2 linked regions of the Homo sapiens genome follow. The protein of the gene in region 1 purifies or fractionates together with the protein of each later gene. This does not show direct contact. Each region holds a gene or a part of one and is shown on either strand. Other genes may lie near its edges.

Region 1 (3,500 bases):
CTGCACCCCCGCAGGGAGCTCTGTGGCTTTTCCAGGCAACGCTAAGGGAGCTGTCTGGACAAAAGGTGTCTTGATCGTAGGAGGGAGGGCTTGGGGGGAGATTTGAAGCCCAGTGTCTTGGGGACACCCCCTCCCAGCCATTCCCAATTGCTAACCTGGGGGGAAGGGGCGGGGGGGACCGAAAGTCTCGCGAGGTCTCAGGCGGTGACAAGAGCTGGGGACAGAAATACACAGAGTCACGGGGGTGGGGAGAGGATGGTCAGGGGAAACCCCCCAACACAGCCTCACTGTTGGGGGGATGGAGAAACGCCGCCGGGATCATTTCCTCCTCTCTGGTGTTTTCCGCGGGAGGGGAGCAGTGAAATGGGGGGCGGCTGAGACATCAAATATGGAAGGAGCTTCCGGGCTGGCTGGGGAGGGGGAGGGGAGGAGGAAGGATGGGAGGAGGGAGAGTTCTGGGGAGGAGTGGGAGCCAGTGATCAGGTGAGGGCAGATGTAGGAGGGAGGAGCAGGGGTGGAGGACAAGCCTGGAGGAAAGGAGGGTCTTGGGAGGACCATAGGGGACAATTAGGGAGGGAAGAAGCCTGGCGCAGTGGCTCAGACCTGTAATCCCAACACTTTGGGAGGCCAAGGCAAGCAGATCACTTGAGTCCAGGAGTTCGAGACCAGCCTGGCCAACAAAACCCCATCTCTACTAAAAATCCAAAAATTAGCCGGGTGTGGTGGCAGGCACCTGTAATTCCAGCTACTCTGGAGGCTGACGCAGGAGAGTCACTTGAACCTGGGAGGCAGAGGCTGCAGTGAACCAAGATTGCGCCACTGCACTCCAGCCTGGGCGACAGAGCGAGACCCCATTTCAAAAACAAAAACGAAAGGGTTGGGAAGGGAAGGTTGTGGTAGGAGAGACTCTTGGGGGAAGGAGCATGGGGGGCAATAGGCCAAAGGGGTCTTGTGGGAGGGAGGGTTGTGGGGCTGAAGGACAGCAAGGAAAAGGCTTGGGGAGGGCTGGAGGGGGAAGGATCCAGGGCACCAGGGATAGAAGCTTCAGCCAACCCCATCAGCTCCAGCCATGATTTGAGTTCAATGAATGGATTTTGGCATCATAGGCAAGAGAAGCAGGGACCTCCCCCACCCAGCCACCCCCACCCCAATCCTCCCTCACCCATAGGCCCACACCCTCTCCCCCTCAATCCCATAGGGGCCCCTCTAGACCTGGGGGTGGGGAACAGAGGAAGGTAAAGGACTGGGAGTGGGTGCAAGCAGGGGGAGGAGTTAGATAGGAGCAGGGAGGGGAGTGGGGGGGTAATGAGCTGGAAATGGACAATGACGGGGAGGTTACAAAAAGGAGAGGTGGGGGGGATGGAACAAGAGGAGCCAGACAGTCCCCCCTCTGGACTAGGAGCCCGGAAGCCTGGGGTCTCGGCCCTTGTGCTCTGTGGCCTGGGGTGGTGGGTTGGTCATGGCCTTCCCTGAATGTCTGTGAAACACAGGGGTTTAGGTGAGGCCATTCCTGGAAGCCCCCCAGGTTCCCCTATGGCATCTCCTTAGGCTGTGGACAGGGATCCTTTAGGATGTGTCTCTGCATTTCTAAAGAAGATTCCACAGACGGCTGTTGAATGAATGCATGATGGATCACATACCTTCAGGTGGCTTCCCTTCACGTTTAAGATAAAGTCCCGCCTCCTCACCATGGCCGAAAATCCGTCCTGATCTTTCTCCCTGGACTCCAGCAGCCCTCTCCCCTTGGCCACTGGGATCAGCCTCACTGTGCTCCTTGCTGTCCCTTGAACAAGCCAAGCTCATCCTCCACCCCCTCCCCCAGGGAAGCTCAGGGCCTGTGCACTTGCTGTTTCTTCTGCCTGCCTGGCCCTTTTCACCCTCCAGGTTCTGTGTCACCTCCTCAAAAAGTCCTTTGCAGAACTCCTTTTCTTCCCCCAGAGATGGGGTCTTACTCTGTCCCCCCAGGCTGGAGCACCATGGCACAATCATGGCTCACTGCAGCCTCCCAGACTCCTGGGCTCAGACAGTCCTCCCACCTCAGCCTCCCAAGTAGCTGGGTCTACAGGCATGCACCACCACACCTAAGTTTTTTGGTTTTGAGGAAATGGTCTTGCTCTGTTGCCCAGGCTGGTCTCAAATTTCTAGGCTCAAATGATACTCCCACCTTGGCCTCCCAAAGTGCTGGGGTTATAGGCGGCAGCCACTGTGCCCAGCCAGACCTCTTTAACTGAAGTGGCCAGAGTAATAGTCTTGTTCTTTTATCTTTATCTTAATTGCTTCTTTTCTTCTTCTTCTTCTTCTTCTTTTTTTTGAGAGGGAGTCTCACTCTATTTGTAGCCCAGGCTGGAGTGCAGTGGTGTGATCTTGGCTCACTGCAACCTCCACCTCCCGGGTTCAAGTGATTCTCCTACCCCAGCCTCCCAAGTAGCTGGGACTACAGGTGCCCACCACCACGCATGGCTAATTTTTGTATTTTTAGTAGAGATGGGGTTTCACCATGTTGGCCAGGCTGGTCTCGAACTCCTGACCTCAAGTGATCCACTGTCCTCGGCCTCCCAAAGTGCTGGGATTACAGATGTGAGCCACCCCCGCCGCCCAGCCTTAATTGCTTATTTTCTGCTTCTTCCTATGAGCGGCTGGAAACTTTTCCTGTAAAAGGCCAGATAGTAAATCTCTTTGGCTATAGGGGCTGTATAGTCTTTGTCCCAATTATTCCACTCTGCTGTCGTGGCTTAACATGGTTGTGTTCCAATAAAGCTTTGTTTACAAAAACAGATGCTGAAAGATCAGGCCCTCAGGCTGGAGTTAGTTTGCGGACCCCTTACAATCTGGAGACTGTAAACCGTGATGGCAGATTCACGCTTTGTTTTATCCCAAATTTGTAGTGCCTGCAACTGTGTTCTCAAGAATCAGTTGTGGCCATGGGTGGTGGCTCATGCCTGTAATCTTAGCACTTCGGGAGGCCAAGGCAGGAGGACTGCTTGAGCCCAGGAGTTCAAGACCAACCTGGCCAACATAGCGAGACCCCAACACTTGAATCCAGGAGGCGGAGGTTGCAGTGAGCCGAGATTGCACCATTGCACTCCAGCCCAGGTGACATAGCAAGACAGTCTCAAAAAAAAAAAAAAAAAAAAAAAGAATCAGTTGCTGAAACAGTGAATGAATGGATTGAATACATGAATGAAAGGAGCTAGGAGTTGGCTTGGATTGTTACAAGGATTAAAGAATATATGTTAAATTCCTAGCATGTGGTAGGTACTTGGTGATATTTGCTGAATGATTCGTCTACTAAATAGCACCACTGTCTTATCCCCCTCACTTCTGCATGGCCGGCAGCCCCCAGTCTGTCCCTTCTGATCCCTGACCCCGACTCTCTCGGCCTCGTCCCTTCCTCTCCATCCTCACAGCCCTGGCCCCAGCTCACGCTTCCACCTGTCACCTCAGCCTCCTAACTTCCAGCCTCCCACCTCCAGTCCATCCTCACAAGACCCCAGAGCTGC
Region 2 (2,805 bases), on another chromosome or scaffold:
AGAGCAAGACTCTCTCCAAAAAAAAAAAAAAAAAAAAGCCGTACAAAATTATAATAATCAAGATATTGTGGTACTGGCATCAGGATAGACATACAGATCAATGGACTAGAATTGACCATCTAGAAATAAACTGTTAGATTTACTGTATAGTCAATTTATTTTGACAAGAGTGCCAAGTCGATTCAATGAGGAAAAGAATATTCTTTTTAATAAATGGTGCTAGAGGCTGGGTGCAGTGGCTCACGCCTGTAATCCTAGCACTTTGGGAGGCTGAGGTGGGCCGATTTCTTGAGGCCAGGAGTTTGAGACCAGCCTAGCCAACATGGTGAAACCCTGTACTAAGAATACAAAATAATTAGCCAGGTGTGATGGCACGTGCCTGTAATCCCATCTATTCGGGAAGCTGAGGCAGGAGAATTGCTTGAACCTCGGAGTTGGAGGTTGCAGTGAGCCGAGATTTCACCACTGCATATCAGCCTGGGTGACAGAGTGAGACTCTGTCTCAAAAATAAATAAATAAATAAGTCGTGCTAGAGCACTCTTTATTGGTGTTCTGCTTCTGAGATTTTTTTTTTAATTTTTAGAGACAGGGTCTCATTCTGTCACCCAAGCTGGAGTGTGGCGACGCCATCATAGCTCACTACAGCCTCAAACTCCTGGGCTCAAGCGATCCTCTTGCCTCAGCCACTTGAGTAGCTGAGATTACAGGTGTGCACTGCCACGTCCAGCTAATTTTAAAAATTTTTTGTAGAGACGGGGTCTATGTTGCCCAGGCTGGTCTTGAACTCCTGGCCTCAAGTGATCCTCCCGTCTCAGCCTCCCCAAGTGCTGGGATTATACAGCTGTGAGCCACTGCGTCCAGCCCTAAGATGATTCATACCTATCGGGGAAAACAGTGCCACTGGAGAGAACAGGCTGGCCTCTGCACTCTGGATTGGTGACAGGAGTTATCCAGGCCTGTCTGAAGGCAATAGCAGGTGTGTCCATGGGACTTCTTCCAGGACGGGTGGGTCTTGAGTTACAGACCTGAAAAGGTGCATAGGGTTCTGGGAACAGAGTGGGTCACGGGTGAGCCCAGGCCTTGGGGTGAGGCATACCTGGCTCTGTTTGGCTGAGTAGCTTCAGGCAGATCCCTTTTCCTTTCTGAGCCTCTGCTGCTGACCAGGGTGACGCTATTCCATGCTGGTCCACAGTGAGGAGACGGGAGGGAATGGTGGCCAGCACACTTGGCATGGGGCCTGGCCTGTGGCGTGGGCCCACCCCTGGCTGCTTTTGGTTTTCCTTGACCGGCCGCCCTGCCCCGGGCAGACAGATGCAGCTGGGGCCTTCCGGTGGCTGGAACCCTCAGAGCGACGGCTGCAGGTGCTGCAGGAGGGCGTCTTGTGCAGGACCTTGGCGGGGTGCTGGCCCCTGAGGCTCCTTGCCACCCCGGGTAGCCTGGCGGAGCTGCCTGTCACCCATCCTGCCGGAGTGAGGTGAGGGTGATGGGGGGGATGCCAGTCCAGGTGGTGGGCACTGTGGCAGGGCTGCCAGTCAGGCCCTCTTCTCTTCCCACTCCTCCAGGCCTCCCATCCCTGGACCGCCTTATGTGGCCTCCCCTGACCTCTGGTCCCACTGGGAAGACTCAGCCCTGCCCCCACCAAGCCTGAGGCCTGTGCAGCCCACCTGGGAGGGCTCCTCAGAGGCAGGCCTGGACTGGGCTGGGGCCAGCTTCTCCCCAGGGACTCCGATGTGGGCGGCCTTGGATGAGCAGATGCTGCAGGAGGGCATCCAGGCCTCGCTTCTTGACGGGCCAGCCCAGGAACCCCAGAGCGCACCATGGCTGTCCAAGTCCTCTGTCTCCTCTCTGCGGTAAGGTGGGGTGGGCAGAGGTGGGGTCCCCTGGTATAGGGGCCGGGGTGGCCCTGACACTCCCCACTTCTCCCCCCACCCCCAACAGGCTGCAGCAGCTGGAGCGCATGGGCTTCCCTACGGAGCAGGCGGTGGTGGCACTGGCAGCCACAGGCCGTGTGGAGGGTGCCGTGTCACTGTTGGTTGGAGGACAAGTGGGCACTGAGACCCTGGTGACCCATGGAAAGGGTGGGCCTGCCCACTCCGAGGGTCCTGGGCCTCCCTAGCCCAGGCAGAGAGTGGGGCACAGGCAGGCCCTTGGGTGCTAAGGGCTGGGCTGCATGTGGGTAGCCCGAGCTCCTACTCTGTCTAAAGAGGGCCACAGTGGGGAGCAGGGGCACCTCTGGAGGCAGGAGAGGCCCCCCAGCATGCTGCCCTAGTACGTGTTTAGAATAAAAACCAGTTTGTTTTTCAACCTGGACCTCCTTGGAGGCAGCAGTTGTGTTTGACTCTTCTGTGTTGGCATCAGGGGGATGAATGAATGAGTGAGCACCAAATGAATGACCAGTTGTGGGAGAGCTGTTCCCTGATGTCCAGAGACACAGGCTTCCTGGCCCTGCACCTTGCAGCCTATACCTCCAGGAGGCTCTGTCCTCCAGCACAGAGCATTCTCCACCGCCCATTTCTAGCCCTCTCCGTCGTAGCCTCATTCCCAGCTGCCCCCATCTAAGCACACACTGAGACCAAGCTGCGGGGAATCAGGTAGGGGCCTTTATTGGCCAGCACACATCTACCTCCTGGCATCTGTCACAAGCATTTGCAGGAGTAGGCGGCCCCTTCCTCTCCATGTCCCCATCCCCAACCTGAGATGCGGGAGGGCCTGGGGGCTCAGAGGGAAGAACTGAGGCAAGAAGCCCCCGGTGATCCAGTCAGAGGATTGGGCAGCCTGACCTCGGGGTGGGGAGCCCAGCACTG

What was found.
Region 2: the proteins of KCNC3 (region 1) and RHBDD3 purify together in Homo sapiens (affinity purification with mass spectrometry; one large-scale study listed by BioGRID and IntAct). This does not show direct contact.

The regions. Positions count from the first base shown.
Region 1 is NC_000019.10:50,315,878-50,319,377, forward strand, and holds part of KCNC3 (voltage-gated potassium channel KCNC3), read right to left. Parts: intron 215-3,500; 3' UTR 1-214. UniProt on the Homo sapiens protein: Voltage-gated potassium channel that plays an important role in the rapid repolarization of fast-firing brain neurons.
Region 2 is NC_000022.11:29,259,372-29,262,176, reverse strand, and holds the end of RHBDD3 (rhomboid domain-containing protein 3), read left to right. Parts: intron 1-751; exon of another isoform or gene 752-977; intron 978-1,312; coding exon 1,313-1,475; intron 1,476-1,563; coding exon 1,564-1,851; intron 1,852-1,939; coding exon 1,940-2,117; 3' UTR 2,118-2,305; downstream 2,306-2,805.